Regions from separate parts of the Homo sapiens genome. Here region 1 is linked to region 2. The links come from fine-mapping of genetic effects on gene expression. A gene starts in region 2. The other region holds a variant in brackets. All regions are shown on one strand. Distances are between the middles of the regions.

Evidence for each region. PIP is the estimated chance that this variant, and not a neighbour inherited with it, causes the effect.
Region 1: its variant is fine-mapped to the expression of NUDCD1 in whole blood (INTERVAL, PIP above 0.99).

Annotation. Positions count from the first base shown.
Region 1 is chr8:109,238,204-109,247,011 of GRCh38, forward strand. NUDCD1 (NudC domain containing 1) reads right to left here. Exons shown (of 10, transcript NM_032869.4): 9 at 7,119-7,278; 10 at 2,716-5,098. The coding sequence ends at 4,806. Among named protein-coding and RNA genes, the nearest start is that of NUDCD1, 91 kb to the right of the region's middle. The variant CAATA/C (reference allele first, on the strand shown) is at 4,476.
Region 2 is chr8:109,328,515-109,337,230 of GRCh38, forward strand. NUDCD1 (NudC domain containing 1) reads right to left here and starts at 5,573. Exons shown (of 10, transcript NM_032869.4): 1 at 5,379-5,573. The coding sequence starts at 5,496. ENY2 (ENY2 transcription and export complex 2 subunit) reads left to right here and starts at 5,833. Exons shown (of 5, transcript NM_020189.6): 1 at 5,833-5,960; 2 at 7,614-7,690. The coding sequence starts at 5,955. RefSeq lists enhancers at 5,265-5,314, 5,445-5,494, 5,677-6,599, 5,865-6,114.

The sequences.
Region 1 (8,808 bases), 90 kb before region 2:
TAATCACTGATCTGTTTTCTATGTGTTTGCACTTTCTAGAACTTTGAGTTGAAGCATACAGTATGTACTCTGGCTTCTTTCACTCAGCATAATTACTTTGCAATTCATCTATGTTGGGTATATTGATACTTTTTATTGCTGAGTAATAATCCATTGCATGGACATAGCACAATGTATTTAGCCCTTCATCTGTAGATGGATATTTGACTTGTTCTGAGGTTTGATTATTATGAATGCTGTTGCTCTGTTCAAATCTTTGAATAGACATATACTTTCATTTTTCTTAGGTAAAAGAATGGGTAAGTGGAATAGCTGGGTCACATGGAAGATCCATGTTTAACATTTTAGAAAACCACTAAACTCTTTTCAAAGGCGATTCTACCATTTTACATTCCAAACAGCAGTGTTTGAGAGCTCCATTTGTTTCATACCTTTGCCAGCATCTGGAATGGTCAGTCTTCAATTAAAGGATTTCAATAGCTATGTAGTGATACCGCATTGTGCTTTCAATCTGCTCATTCCTAGTGACCAATAACGTTGAGTGCCTTTTCACATGCTTACTTGCCATTCATCTTGTATGATGTATCTGTTCAAAATTTTGGCCCAATAAAAAATTTACATATTTGATTATTTTATTATTGAGTTCTGAGGGTTCTTTATACATTCTGGACACTAGTGCTTTATTAAATAGTGATTTGTAAATGTTTTCTCCAAATCTGTGGCTTTTCATTGTCACAACACTGCCTAAGAACGTAATTTCTTAATTTTGATGAAGTATGATTTGTCACTTTTCTTGTTTGGTGTCATATGCAAGAAATCTTTGCCTAACCCAGCCTTACAAAATTTTTCCTTTATGTTATCTGCTAGAAGTTGCACAGTTTCAGGTTTTACATTTAGGTCCATGATCCATTTTAAGTAAATTCTGATATAAGGCTGTGTTAGTTTCCTATGGCCGCTGTAATGAATTTACCACAAATTCGGTGGTAATGCATTCTGTCACAGATCTGAGGCCAGAAGACCAAAATCAAGGTGTCAGCAGGGCCATTCCCCCTCCAGAGGCTCTGAGGGAGAATCTATTCCTTGCTTCTTCCAGCTTCTGGTGGCTGCCAGCATGCTCTAGCACTCCTCGGCTTGTGGCCTTTTAAACACCATCTTCACATAAGCTTCTCCTCTTTGTGTTTGTAATTGCACTCTGCCTCTCTCTTGTAAGGGACACTGCAATTAGATTTAGGGTCCACCCCAGATAATCCAGGATAATTTTTCCATGTAAAGATCCTCATTGTAATCACTTCTGCAAAGACTCTTTATCTTCATAAGGTTATATTTTCATGTTCCAGGGATTGGAACCTGATATCTTCAGGTGGCCACTATTTAGGCTACTACAAAGGCAAAAATGAATACCCAATTGTTTTTGCGCCACTTGTTAAAAATATATCTTTTCTCCATCAAATTATCTCTGCATTTTGAATTGCCTCTTCATTGAAATATCTCTGACTAAAATCAACTGACCATATGTGTCTGAGTCTCCATCTGGACTCTTTATTCTGATCTATGGATCTATTTGTTGAAATTGGTGCCAATACCACATTTTCTTGATTACTGTAGCTTTACTGACCATCTTTATTTTCTTTTCTGTGAATTAACTGTTCATATCTTTTGTCTGCTTTCCTTTTGTATAACTTGTTTGCTTTTTTATTAAATGATAGTTCTTATGTTCTAGATTTTAACATTCATACATTACGCATAAGTCACATATCTTTCCTCAGTCTGTTGCTTTATCTTATACCAAAAGTAGGTCATAAAGAAATTTTACATTTTGTAATGATCAAATTCATCAATCCTTTCGCTTATATTTTTGCCTTCTGGATCTTAAGAAGCCTTCTCAACCTTGAGAATATAGATATTTTCTTCTTGTAAGTATAGGACGATTAAATGTGTGTCTATTTTGTTTACTAATGCAATGATGCTACTCTTTTTACTGCTTCATGATGTATCTTGATATCTAGTTGGGTACCTTTTACCTTGGCTCTTTTTGTGCATTTATTCTTTCTTACCAATTCTAGAAGGCCTTACTTCTCTTTGCTTTATTACTTCTATACTTCCATCATTGGGCTTTTGTTTTTTACCACTCAACTATTATTACTTGTTCAGTAAGACACACTTACTACTAAGAAGTAATTAGAATATTCTTCCAGTAATAATCAGTGATAAGTATCAGTTTTGCCTTCTTATATGACTTGCCACACATAAACTTACCATCTGTTCTTTTCTATAGTTAATAACACAAAATATTAGAAATTCCTGTGTAATGATGGTTTAACTTGTTCTGTACAGTCATTTCCCTTTTATGTAGAAATTTGATGAGTATACTTTATTTAAGAGTATTTTTTTTAACATTGTTAACCATTCCTAATTTCTTGACACTCTGATTCTTTTTTCTAACTCTTCCCATTGGCAACTCCTCTACCTGACTCTTGTGGGTAGTCCCCAAGGTTCTAGCCCTGGTCAGACTTCCTTAGCAGGAAAGCAACCACTCTATGCCACCCTCTCCTCTTTTTTTCCCTAAAAAGAAATTTTATCTGAAAATCATTAAAATGTAGATTGTCTCTTTATCCTTAGTAATATATTATCCTTAATACTGAAAAAATCATGCTAAGGTACATAGTTGATGCTTAAATGTGTTAAAAGAGTGAATATTGTTAATGACTCTTAATATGCAAAACACATAAAATACTACTTTATTACTATCATAAATATTTTATAAATTCCTATTTAAAACATGATAAAAATCAACAAAAATACAAGGTACTATATTCTTAGCACTTGTAGTATATATCTCAATGTTCTAAGTATATGTACCTTAGAACATTGTTTAAATGTTTATGGAATCCCTGAAGCATTTCAGGAAAATAGCTTGAAATCACGGCTCTAGACCTATTCATCTTTTAACGTAGGTCAACATGCGACAATATTTAGGATTAATTATCCTGAGAGCTTTCAATTCAACATTAATCATGCAAAAAAATCACATGCACAAAGAATATTGATTACTAAAATTGGCAATATATACATAGTCATGGTTAATTAAGCACCACATTTTTATTATACATTTTTCTTATGTTCCCTAAGAGGATATTATCTTTGGGGAAAATTTTAGAGAAAATTTAGATCTACTTTCCCATCATAAAGATTTTTAATAATTCACTATTTAAATGGTCTTTTGTTTCATGAAGTTTTACAACAATACTAAAAAGTTCTGGAAATATCACTGTTTTGGTTTTTGGTTACTATACAGTTTTCCATCTCTATGATCTCGTGATGTTTGGTATCTAGTCTCTCTTTCCTAATACGAATAGAGTACTATTAGGACTCCAATTGTCAATACCAGTCCTCAGGACCTTTCCTAACTTTCTACCTAGCACCTCAATACTCTCTAGGAAACTGCAATCTGACAAAGGGTTTAGAACATGTATGCAATCCTCATCTTTTTTCCTCCTCTCTGTCATTCATTCGTTCATTAAAATTTAGTTGAGTCAAATACTTGCCCAGACAGGCAAAAGATATGTTAGGAACAAAGCTTTTCTATCTTATATTTCTTATCTTAATCTTCTGCCTCTTAAATGAAGGTCTTAACTTCCTTATTAAAATATAAAATCCAACTTGAGGTTTATATAAGATACATATCTTGAAATGGTATAAAAAGTAATAAAAATTTCCAGGTACATACATACTAAAACAAACCTGGAAAGGTAAGTTTGAAAAAACAAAATTTGTGGCAAGAAACTATAACATATAAACAGGATTATTTTGTTGAAGTTGTTAGAAAAATAAAGAGAGCCACAAGGATAAATTATAATTTGTCCTTGTGTGGTAAGATTGTTCCATCAATGGCCCCCAATGAGTCATACCATCCGCTGTCAGCTTGTGTAGTCCCCTCATTCTGACTCTAGACTTGGCCATGTGATTTGCTTTGTCCAATGGAACATTAGTAAATATGATAGATGTACAGGATCGATAAGCTCTTGCATATTGGAGCTTGCTCTCTTAAGATGTTTTCTCTACTATGGAAAGAAGATTCGTCTAGTCTACTGGAGGCTGAGAGGCCCTGTACAGCAGAGACAGCCAACTCACTGAATCGTGAAAAATAATAAAAGTCCTTGTTTTAAACCACTGAGTTTTGGTGTGGTTTGTTATGCAGTGATGGATAATGTGAAATCTTATCTCTCTTTGTCTATGTCTGTGGCAGAGCAACTGGCTAAAAGTTACATAAAGCTATACTTAATTTGAAAATAATAATAAAGGTCTCTCAGTAAACTTAAAAAATATTAGACCTGCTGTTCTCTAGCATTTCCTCCTCCATGTAGACTCAGTTATTCAATCCACTTAAATACATATGTACAATACTCAACATTTAACTATTATCCTGTACATCTTATAGGTACAGCCTGTAGCAACTAATCAACGAACAGAGTACA[CAATA/C]AATATTTTTATTTTTAAACACTGAATTGTACATCTTTCATATAAAACATGAGATTCTAGCCTGTTTTAAAAAATAAGTATACTTGCTAGTACTATCTTCACTCTTTTTTTTTTTCAGAAGCCAATGTTCTCTAAATCTGCAGCTTCATTCCACAGCTTTACAGAATCATAATCTCTTGAATATATTTCCAATGTTATTAAAAAATAAAAAATCATACAAGATATATTTAGCACATTAAAACTTAAGAGGTTACAGTATAACTGTCCAGACCTCCAGGTACCACTGAATACTTTTCCAGTACAAAGAGGCCAATATGTTAGAATAATTAATTCTCTGTATTTACTTTTATTAAAAAGAGGTTTTTGGTAGTAAGAACAAATAATCTCTCATTTGTTGCCTGAAATCCTAAAATAGGATCATTGGTTTCTAGGCTTGCTACTTGCTGCTTAGCAACCTGTCCTACTTGCCTGCCTTCCTTTCTGTTGTAAAGTACAGTGGACATGGGAGCAGGCTGACGATAGATGAATACTCGACGAAGGCACTCACAAAGGGCTGCATACGAGTAATTTGGAGCACAGGCAAAAAATTTTTTGTCTCTCTTTGATGCTTGGACATAGCCTGCCAAGAATATGAGACAAACAAAAGAAAAACTATATATTAAACAGAAGGGGAAAAATGATGATTTAACATTTAATATTTTGCAATGTTTATTACAAATTAAAATGCCCAAGTAAAATATATACCATAAGGTATATAATTCTGAATCATTAACGATTAGCCACAATCAGTCTCTCCCATCTGGTACAAAAATACGACTTTAATTCCTAAGGAACAAAACAGATATGGCTTTCTCGCTTCAAAAAAAGCGTAATATAGCTTCATTTAATTTCCACGAATAATTCGAACACTAAAATTCTAAAATCTAAAACACTCAATACATGACAAAATATCTTTAAGTGCCAATTTAATATTTAGCTTCGTGAGTTACGGATAGGGCATCACAGAACCATTTTTTTCCTCTTAAATAAATTGGAAAATGTGTATAGGATACCATCATAAAGTTATTTTAGTTTTCTGTTCATAATGTATCCCTGAATGTACTAGTATTCGTGATGCATTCTCTTATTATCCCTAAAATGTTAGTGATATTTTTATACATCAATACCAACACTGTAACTGGATTTTTTTGTACTTTTAGCCCCCACAAGTAGAATGTTGATCACTATAACTTCAAAAATAATTTCAAGTCTCTAAACTGAAAAAAATCCTTATCTTAATTCATGTACATGTTTAAAAAGTATCTTTTTGGATTAAAACAACATTTATATTCCAAAATATAAATTATGATTTTTAGATAGTGACATGGTTAGCAAATGTTAGGTATTTATGATCATGTAAAATAAGAATATAACATTAATTAAAATTGAGATCTCATCAAACAATGAATAAGCAAAGGAACTACTGAGCACATGCAGATCAATACTGTTTTTAAAAATATTAAGCAGGTTTGAAGCAGGAAAAGTGAAGATTTAGATACCTATTTAAATAGTTTAAAGTAGCTATCCAGGCTAACCTTGACAGAATAATGTATATAATATTTCAAGAGTACATATCTAATATATGTTGATTTAACTTAGAATTAAGCATAGAATTCCCCTATAATAGGGGATTTGGGGATACAAATAGAACATCTGAGCATCTAAAGATGATATGATAGAGCTTTCTTCTGACCAAAGTATAGATAATTAAAAAATAGCATTATAGTAGGGAGGCTAAAAATTATATGGTTAAATTAGTTAACCAAACTTTGTACTTCAGGTCATAAAAATCCATTTGGAGTCTGAACCAGTTTAGCAGCCTACATTATTAACTATAAGGGATAATTAATAAATTTCTTCTACAATTAGGGTTGTGCACATATAGCCATCAAAATACGTAACTTCACTTCTTGCTGCCTGTTTAAAATAACCTTTCAATAAAGCAACAACTGTGGCTAATTCACATAAAAAATTTCTGTCACACAATACTAATGCATTTTGACAGAAAATCAATGATTGCATACGTCTATAATTAAGTAGTTTAAACATTGTCAAGCCCTAATTTTAAAACTGATTTTTTTCCTTTTATCCTACCAAATAAATTTAATTTCTGCTTATCACCGCTTTCCATAAGTATTTTCATTATAATGGCTCTCTTTTGTACTTAATTTTGACAAAAGATGTCTCCTAATGTGCATTACACCTTAGGGGAATTCTATGATGTTTCTGAAGATTACTCTGAAGAAACTTGAACACCAGTTCCATGTAGGGTATTATCAAGCTCCTTGCTCAGACTCCAGTATTATATGGCTTACAGAATTAGAAAAAGCAAATGACTTATTAGAATAATTCAAGTGGTTAGATAACCACTTTCATTTCTATTCTGTGTTGATCTTCTGTACAAGCATAAAAACAGATTAGTCTAAATGTTCCAACAGTGCTAACACTCACAACTAGTACAAGCAAACAAATCATAGCGCAAATCAATCTAAATGTAATCAGGACAGCTCAAATTAAAAAGAAAAAAAAGAAATGAACTTTAAATGAATGATGACTGTATTTCTGATTTCATGGAAAATGTCAAAGAGTTTGCTTTATACCTAAAGCATTGAAAGTTGCGATGTGCTCCCACATATCATCTTGTTTGCTGGAGTGTGGTTGCCAGAGTAGGGCATCAACATCATGGCGCAAACAGAAGCAGGGCATTTCTTTAGGATCCACTATGACAGAGAAAAGGTACTGGTTGCTTCCAAGATTCACCTAAAAAGTGATTTAAAAAAAAATTTACTCAACAACAAATTAATAATAGCAACAATAACAATGGCAGAAGCTGACAGCCAGCATTAAGTGTCAGCAACTGTTTTATACTTTTTATATACTTAATCTGATTGACTCCTCATAATATCCCTGAGATAAATGTGCTACTGTTATGTTCATTTCAAAGCTGAGGAAAGTGATGCACAAGGCATTTAGGTAACTTGTCGATGGTCAGCCTGGCCATAAGTCATGGAGCTGAAATTTGGACCCAGAGTCTATGTTCTTAATCACCACGTGATATACCACCTCTTAATTGTTAGTAAATAGTTTAAAACACGATATAAAGCAGGGGTCCCCAGTCACTGAGCCGCAGACTGGTACCAGTCAGTGGCCTTTTAGGAACTGGGCCGCACAGCAAGAGATGAGCAGCAGGCAAGGGAGCATTACTGCCTGAGCTCCACCTCCTGTCAGATCAGCAGTGGAATTAGATTCTCACAGGAGGGTGAACACTATTGTGAAATGCACATGCAAGGGATCTAGGCTGTCTGCCTTATGAGAATCTAACTAATACCTGATGATCTGAGGTGGAACAGTTTCATCCTGAAACCATCCACCAAGCCCCCACAGGCCCATGGAAAAACTGTCTTCCACAAAACTGGTCCCTGGTGCCAAAAAGGTTGGGGACTGCTGATATAAAGCACCAATTTTATAAGCAGACTATTTTTAGGCCATAGAATACACACATGAAGTTTACTAATGCTAACTTGTAATAATTACCAAGAACAATGACACTACCAGAATTTATGAGCACACTCTCATAACATTTATAACCAGGCATGTTATAAATACTAATCTTAACAACTCGCAAGGCTATTATTATCTTCATTTAAGGGATGAAAGAACAGGCTTGGAGAGTTTGAGTAACTTGTTCTAGGCTAAAGAGAAATATCACAATGCTGGAATTCACACTCAGATGTTTAAAACTATTTACTTAAACGTACTGCTTAATTAAAGTATCAATGTCAATATGTCAATAATGTCAACATTTGTTATTGTAACACATCAATAATTGTTACTGCAATATTGATGCCTAAAGAAATGCATTTTAATACAAAATCATCAAATTGAAACTCACTGAATTTCATCTACAGCAATACTTTTTCTAAATGAAGACATGTTGTAAGGATAGTCTTCTTTATGAGAAATGTTATTATCAGAGTTGAAAATACGAAACAGAATACCAACAAAAATCACATCAAATGTAGAAAATATAAAATATGCACAGTACTTATAAATATGTAATTGATTCTAGGAGTTTGCAAGCAGACTGGAGAACCGTAAAAGATTGGGTTAAAGTAAGAAGTGGAGACCTGACCTGAATTCAACAGGGAAAGCTGTGAAGTGGCTCTCCAGCAAGGGGACCTATTATTGGTAAAGCTGTGACAACACAGGCTATTGGTCACAGGAGAATACAGTGTCAGAGCAACCCATCTTCTGCTCCCCAGCAATGCCAGGGAAATAGGGCTTTTTCGT
Region 2 (8,716 bases):
AGGCTACAGAAAGAACCATCTGAAAGGGTTGAAGAGAAATCCTGGGCACTCACATAAGGCTAGGAACCATAACTGCTCCCAATAAGCAGAATGGAGAAAACCCTTAATTTGTGGGATACTGGGTAGTGTACACAGGAAAGTCTTGCCTCGGTAGTGGGAAATAACCCTAGACTGAGCACTGCTCCTGATCGGACTAACAAATCATAAAAGCAAGAACCAATGGAATTAATCTGTTTCCAAGTAACTCAACTATATCCCGGAAAAAAAACTCAAGAACATTATAAAAATACAAAAATAACCTGCACCTAACAAGGTAAAATTCACAATGTCTGGCATCCAATCAAAGATTACCACATATGCAAAGAGGAAAGAAAACAAAATCCATAATGAAGAGAATTACCAATCAATAGAAGCCAATATAAAACTGACATGGAAGCTACAATTCACAGAACAAGATGTAAAAACAATTATTGCTACATGTACTCCATGTATGTTCAACATAAGTAAGTAGAAGCAAGAAAGATGCAAAAGATTTAAATCAAACTTCTAGATGTGAATATTACAATGTCCAAGATGAAAAATACACCAGATGGGATTAACAAGAGACTAATATTACAAAAAAAAAAAGTAAACGGAACTAAAGGCATGAAAATGGAAACTATTGGCAATAAAACAGAAAAAAGTATGAAGAAAAAATGAAACGGGCATTCATGAGCTGAGACCAACTTCTGTGATCTAAAAATGTGTAACTGGAGTCTTCAAAGGAGAAAAGGAGGGGAAAAAGTTGGAAGAAATAATAGCCAAAATATTGCCATTGATCTTGATAAAAACTATATGTCCGCAGTTTATAGCCCAACAAACCCCAAACATAAGAATCATAAAGAAAACCACAGCTGGCCACAATATTATCAAACTGCTCAAAACCAATGTAAAAGAGAAAAATCTTAAAACAGAAGAAAAAAGGCATGTTATGTATAGAGCAACAAAGATAGGATAATGTGAGATTTCTCATCAGAAACAATATAAGCAAGACTGAGGCTATAACTTTAAAGCATTGAAAGAAAAAACTGTCAACCTAGAATGCAGAAGGAGCAGAGAGATGGTTACAGAAGGGTACAAGGAAACTTTGGGAATGATAGCTAAGTTTAGTATCTTGATTGTGGTGATGATTTCACGGGTGTATACATATATCACAACTTCTTAAGTTGTACATTTTAAATTTGTAGTTTATTGTCAATTATGTCTTCATAAAGCTGTTTAATTTGTGAGACAAATTTATGTCCTACTTACCAGGCATGCTCCAACCCTGGAGATAAAGCATTGAAAACGATGGACATGGGACCCTTCAATACAAAATCAATAATCTTAGCAAAGAAAACATACTGGATGCTACGAAGTATGATAAAGTCTATGAAGTACTGGTTACTATGGCAACGCATAATACAGATTCTATAGTGTAGATTCTGACTAGTCAAGAAAGGAATCCCTGAGGAAGTAACATGTAAGCCAACATGAAAGAATGAAGTATGAATTAGCTAGGTGAAATATAGCTGGGAAACATATAAAAACATATAAAAAGACTTGTACTAAATGAAGATTCTAGGAAAAGGATATTTATAAATGCCTAGGAAGGAAATTGCCGGATCAAAAGACAATTACAATTTGATTAAAAATAAGTTTTTTGTTTCGTTCTTTGGAATAGAAAAAGACAAAGTGACATTTACTGCTTATGTAGCAAAGGAAATTTTGGTACAACTTAATAACATTATTTAAGACAAGAGAATAAGCCTCATTGCATCAAGTTCTTGACACCAGAGACCACATCATCTTTACATCTTAAATGCAGTGTTTCAGGTAGCCAAGGTGCCCATCAAAGGTTTGTGGAACTAAAGTGAACTCCTTCAGTTAGAATAAAAGAAATCAAATTACCAGAAGCGCCTCAATTATGCTTCACTATCTCTAGAAATGATAGTTTTTAAACAAAATAATCTTTTTCATCATCCTCAAGTAATTCCTAATGAAAAACTCATCATGTGAACTATTGCAAAAGCCTCCTATCTGCTGTGTGCAGTCATCTCATCTTCCAAACTCAACCTCCACAGAGTCTGAGGTAAGCTTTTCAACTCCCGTATCTGTTCACGTCCCTTGTACTTAAAATGTGGTACACATACGCCATGGAATACTATGCAGCCATAAAAAGGAACACAATCATATCCTTCAAAGGGACATGGAAGGAGCTGGAAGCCACTGTCCTCAACAAACCAACGAAGGAACAGAACACAAAACACCACATGTTCTCACTTGTAAGTGGGAGCTGAATAATGAGATCACATGGACACAGGGAGGGGAACAACACACACTGTGGTCTGTCAGAGAATGGGGTAGGGGGAGGGAGAGCATTAGGAAAAATTGCTAATGCATGCTGGGCTTAATACCTAGGTGATGGGTTGACGGGTGCAGCAAACCACCATGGCACACGTTTACCTATGTACCAAACCTGCACATCCTGCACATGTACCCCGGAACTTCAAAGAAAAAAAAAAATCGGTCGGAGCAGTGGCTCAGGCCTGTTAATCCCAGCACTTTGGGAGGCCGAGGCAGGTGGATCGCGAGGTCAGGAGTTCAAGACCAGCTTGGCCAAGATAGTAAAACTCCGTCTCTAATACAAAAATTAGCTGGGCTTGGTGGCGGGCACTTGTAATCCCAGCTACTCCAGAGGCTGGGGCAGAGAACTGCTTGAACCCGGGAGGCGGAAGTTGCAGTGAGCTGAGATCGCGCCACTGCACTCCAGCCTCAACGACAGAGACTCCGTCTCAAAAAACAAAACAAAAACAAAAAGAAACAAACAAAAATTAGCTGGGCATGGTGGCGGGCGCCTGTAATCCCAACTACTCGGGAGGCTGAGGCAGGAGAATCGCCTGAACCCGGAAGGCAGAGGTTGCAATGAGACGAGATCACACTACTACAGTCCAGCCTCCGCAATAGAGCAAGACTCAGACTCAAAAAAAAAAAAAAAAAAAAAAATCTTCAAATGGCACCTGATATCCTGCAGCTGTACATCCCAAACACAGAATCTAAGATTAACGCTGATGAAATGAGTACGGAACAAGGACAACTTTGTGAATTTTTTCTAAAGTTAAAGTATTCAATGGATTGTTTATTGTGAGATTTTGCTTCCTGCTTTTTTGGTGTTAAAATATCCTTTTGTTTATGAAAAGATAGATGAGTAAATGATAGTTTTTAAGAAACATCTCCACCTAGTAAACAGAAAAGTTGGCAGAACTACAGCAGCTGAGTTTTATTTTATATTGTAATGGCTCAATACAAAAATGTCAGGGAAACACTGAATGACCGGAAATCCAAGAAATCCAAAAGGCAAACAAGGCCCTCACTGATTTATTTCCTCTCACTTTCCCAGACGTTTTGCTCCAGCAATATAAGAGTGCAAGGATGTCCAGCATACAACCTACTAATTATTTCCCTTTCCTCATGCTTTCCCATGAATGGAATGACCTCAACAATTTCTTCTCTTCTTCATATACTCATTTTATTGAATACATCCTATGTGCCAAGCACTAGATATAGGGTAGTGAACAAAAGAAAAACATCACTGTTTTCAAGGAACTCATAGTCTAGTGGAGGAAACAGACAACAAATCAAGATAGAATTTAAAAGGCCGATAAGTACGTCTTATGGAGAATGCAATGACGAAGCCCAAAAGTGAAGGCAGGAAGGCTAGTCAGGAGGCTACTAGAGTTCAGGTAAGAGATAACTCTGATTTGGATTAGGGTGGAGGCCTAGAGATATCAAAATGTGGAGCTGACCGGACTTGCTACCAAGCAGACAGTGGCTAAAAGAAATAAACCCCAAATGACTCTGGCACAAGTGTCTCTTGGTACCAACCTGGGCTAGTCTAGTCGGCTAAAGGATAAGAGACCACACGGAGAAAAGTCAAGAGGAGACCATGTGAAAGAATCTTAAACAAGCTTATAGTCTGAGACCCTACCCCCACCCTCCAAACATATGAGGAAGTCCAGCCAAATGAGCAGAGCTTCCCAGCAGATCCATTACTGAACAAGGATGCATCAATGAGCCCAACTAGGACTAGAAGAACCACTCAGCTGACCCGTAGACTTGTGAGCAATAATAACTGCTTCTTGTTTTGAGACACTGAATTTTGGCTTCACTTTCTAATGCACTAACTAAACATGGTGATACCATCTACTGACATGGGGTGACTGGAAGAAACACGGTGGCAAAGAGGAAAAGGAAAAAAATAAAAAGAAAAATCAAGCTTATCCTCTCTCATCCTAGTCAACTCTTAACCTACCCTTCAAAGCTCAACTTAGATATTAACTCCTCCAAGACGCCTTCCCAGATCCCCAGACTAGTTTAGGAAAGATATTCAAGTACTACCATTGTATTTTGTACATATCCCTATCACTGCCTTCCCATATTGTTTTACAATTATCTGTTTACAATTTTCTTCCTAACTAGCTAATAGTCCTCTTTTGTTACGGAAGGTGTCTTGTTCATTTTGATATTATCAGGACGTAACACAAAACAGGTACTCGGTAAATATTTCTGAATTTAATAAATCAATTAGCATAAACTTATTTTATACTTTAATGTCTGTTATTATAATTAACTGTAGATCACTATTTCTCAAAGTGTGATCTCTGAAAACATGCATCAGAATCAGCAGGGGTGTGAATTTTAAAATGCAGATCTCTGGGCTCTATCATAACGAAAATGCCGTTAAGTTGTAAAAACAAGAGTAAGGATATTCTACCAGCTACAGATAAAGCAAGGAGTAGCAGTGTGGGAGTAAATCCACTTTTCCTCACTATCTTCTAGAGATGTTCTCTACCAGAGTTCTTAATGTGCCAGGAACTGAGTAATTAAAAATGCTATGACTGGAATGTAGTTTCTCTTCTAAGAAACGGCTCTCGGTCAGAGGAAACAGGAACTGGGGGTCCTCCAAGGAGGTGTGGTTTCTCAACGCACACGTTCACAAGCGATGCTCCAGGAGGAAGGAATGTTCTCAGCGTCCCCCGAAACAGAAGCCAGGCTGTGGACACACAGCAGCCAGAGCCCCAGGCACTACCCGCACGCCAGCCCTCAGACCTCAGACCTCAGAGGCTGGGCTGCTGACGGAGGGGGCCCAGGGTCCCGTTACCGAAGAGCGCGCGAAGGCGGCTCCCACCGGGTTCTGGGATGGGCATCATTCCCCAGAAGCAGCGGCCTCCGTGAGTCCACGCAAGCCGCCACGGTGGCTTCGCTTGCCAGTCAGAAAGAAAGAAATTGCGGGAAGGGTCAGGCCGGAGGCAGCCGAAAGGGGAAAGGAACGGAGTACGAAGGGCGCCGCCGCTTCCCACCTGCGTCAAGCTCCAGCTGGTAACAAGGCAGCGGCTCAAGAGAGAGCTTGTAACCCTCGAAGCGGGGATCCAACAGAGGTCTCTTCACCCGTAGGGAGCAATTAGCCGCCACCTCCATCGCTTTCCAGGGCCGCAGCGTGAGAATTAATAAAGCCCTTGTTGAAAGGTCCGCGCTTCACGCCTCGCACAGAGACTGGGAAGCGGCGTGGTTCCCATCCCAGAAAACACTGCGGTGCGAACTGCCTTCTGGGAAATGTAGTGTCCGTGAAAAAGTTGAGACTGTTGCATGCTGGGCTATGTAGTTCTCCTGGTACTTAACGCGCGCGCGACGGCAAGGTCTGAACTCTGTTACCCAGAGGCCCTAGCAACCAGGAGGCGGCCCGCGCTGGTTAAATTCTCACATTATAGGCAGGGTGGCGAGACCCCGCCCCGGAAATGCGTGTTCTAGCTTTCTGTGTGCTTAGGTGCCCGAGCTACTGAGGGTCTAAGTCCGGGCAGCCGAAGAGTGTGGTAGGTAACGGTCCTCAGCGCAAGGGTCATTTCGTCGCTGGGAAGGGACGGCCCTCGCCCGCGGTGATGGTGGTGAGCTATGCCCGTGGTCCTCAGGGCCGGGACCCGGGCCCAGCCCAGGCTCCTTTCGATGTACTGTCTTTCGTTAGCGTCCCCGACCCGCGCTCGCGGGCCTGTAGGGCTCTCCGACAGGGCGTGCTACCGGAGTTGGCCTGAAACCAGTCCTCGCTTTGTTTTCTGGCTCCTCCTCTCCCGCCTCTCCCGCTGTCTCCGCCCTGTTCTATTTTCCCTAAGAATGTCTGAACTGGGAGGGATACCCTAGCGCCCTTGTTTTACCAGTGAGAAAACTGAGGCCTTTAAGAATTAAGTGACTTGTCCAAGGTCACTATCCGTATTTTAGGAGCCAAGACGAGATCAAGTTCAATATTCCAGGAGTGGTACTGACTAGACCTTGTAGTTATTTTGAAAATGTTAGCCTCCAATTACAAAAGCAAGCATTTCCTAGTTCTCACTCAACTTCTCCTTTTCCCTGTTCCTCTCAAAAAAGAAAAAAAAAATCAACTCTGGTAACTCATTGCCAGTCTGAATTTTCAATAGGCCAGATGGAAGACAACAAAAGTAATCTCAAGTTAGTGACAGATTAGGTGGGAAAACGTTAGTTTACGCCAAGTTTTATTTAATTTAAACTTTTAAGTGGCTTTAACGCTTTCAAAACCTAACTTTCCTCTTCTTTCAACATCATTTTGGTTTGGGTTGTCTGTTTTTACTGACAATTGAGGACTTTGTAAGTTAGGAATTAGTTTGAGATTTGTTTTCTTCTTATCCCACCAGCAGTGTGTGTGTAAACACACACATCCACACACTTAGGTTTAGCAGTTGTAATTGTGGGTTCATCCTAGTGAAGAGTAAAGCAAAACACTTAGAGCCTTATCTAGTAATTTTATTTTTTTTGATTAATTAATTTTTTTTTTTTTTTTTGAGACAGAGTCTTGCCCTGTCACCCAGGCTGGAGTGCAGCAGCGCAATGTCGGCTCACTGCAACCTCTGTCTCCTGGGTTCAAGCGATTCTCCTGCCTCAGCCTCCTGAGTAGCTGGGATTACAGACACCTGCCACCAAGCCCAGCTTATTTTTCTATTTTTAGTAGAGACGGGGTTTCACCATCTTGGTCAGGCTGGTCTTGAACTCCTGACCTCGTGATCCACCTGCCTGGGCCTCCCAAAGTGCTGGGATTACAGGTGTGACCCACTGTGCCCGGCCTGGTAATTTTATTTTTTTACTAATAGTATTTAATCTTTTTTTGATGTTTAGTATGTATGACTTCTCCCAATTTTTGGATGCAGTCTCTGCAGAAGTGATCGGCAGTTATGTTCAGTTTTGGAGCTCCTAGGGTCAAAGTACTTGAGTTCAAATTTTGCCTTTCCACTTTCTATCTCTGTGCCTCAGTTTCCTCATCAGTAAAATACAGATTATTTTATTAATATAAATATGTAACAATACGTTCTGGGAATTAAATGTGATGTTTAAAAAAAAGCAAACCCACACTGCATTAGCCCAGTGCCAAGCACATAAGTGTTTAATAAAGAGTAATGATATTATTAACACACTTGAAATGTATCACCCCTTCAGTTAATAGAATGGTAAACATGTTAGGATGCCTGCCTAGAGGATTTAGCAGAAAATGCTTTGTAAATGTTCTATATCTGAAAGTACATGTTGATGTCCAGGTTAGCAAGATGAACAAAGATGCGCAGATGAGAGCAGCGATTAACCAAAAGTTGATAGAAACTGGAGAAAGAGAACGGTAAGTAATAGATTGTGTTAATAAATTACATTTCACCGCCTTTAATAGTTAGCTTGTAAGAATCTAAACAAGAAATGAAACATGTCACTGGAAAGAATTACAATTGAGATTATAAAAGTTTCTATTCCGAACATCTGGAAAAAATAATTTAGGTTTGTTAAGTATTGCAGGACTTGGAGGGAAGTGGTGATGTAGAAAGATGAGCAAGATATGGCTCTTAAAGAGTAATTTGATGGAGAAGAAAAAGTACATACCTGAATTACAACTGGAGACATAATGTTACCTGGGTTTTAACAGGGAGACAATGTTGTGGAACCAGCTTCATTTACCAAGCTCTCAACCTTGGAGCAGCAAGTGCTGTTTCCACTCTCTAAAACATTCTTCCTTCTCTTCCTTTTTAGCTAATTCTAGCTCAACTATCAGGTCTAATTTATATATTGTCTCTTCAAGGAATGTTTTTAAGTCCCAAATACCTTGTTCCATCATAGCATTTAATCAACATTGTGTTCTAACAATCTACTTGGCTAGTTTGTATCCTCCAGTATAATCTAAGTTCTTTAACACCAAAAACAACATTGTATACCCAGCATCTAATGCTTTGTTTGGTTCATAATTGGCCACGTAAATATTTGCAGAATCAACAGGTTTAGAAGTACAAAGAAGGGGCTGAGGAATCAAGAAAGGCTCCCAGAGGCAGGGTTATAAAGTGAGTAAGACAAATATGTATAAGGAAGAGGCAAATATGTATAAGGAAGAGGGGGAATCTTTCAACTCAACCCGGGCATTCAGGTGATCATGTAAGATCTCACACAATAAGAAAAAGAGGTGCATCTGTTGCTGACTTTATTTTTGGATGATGGGAGTCATTTAAAGTTTTAAGAAAGGAAATGACTAGATCACATTTACACTTTAGGAATCTTACTCTGTTGGTGTGGAGCTTGGACTTGAAGGGGACAAGATAGATGGCAGAAAAATGAGGTAGAAGATTATATAGGGTTGAAAATGGAAAACTCCAAAAATTGGAAG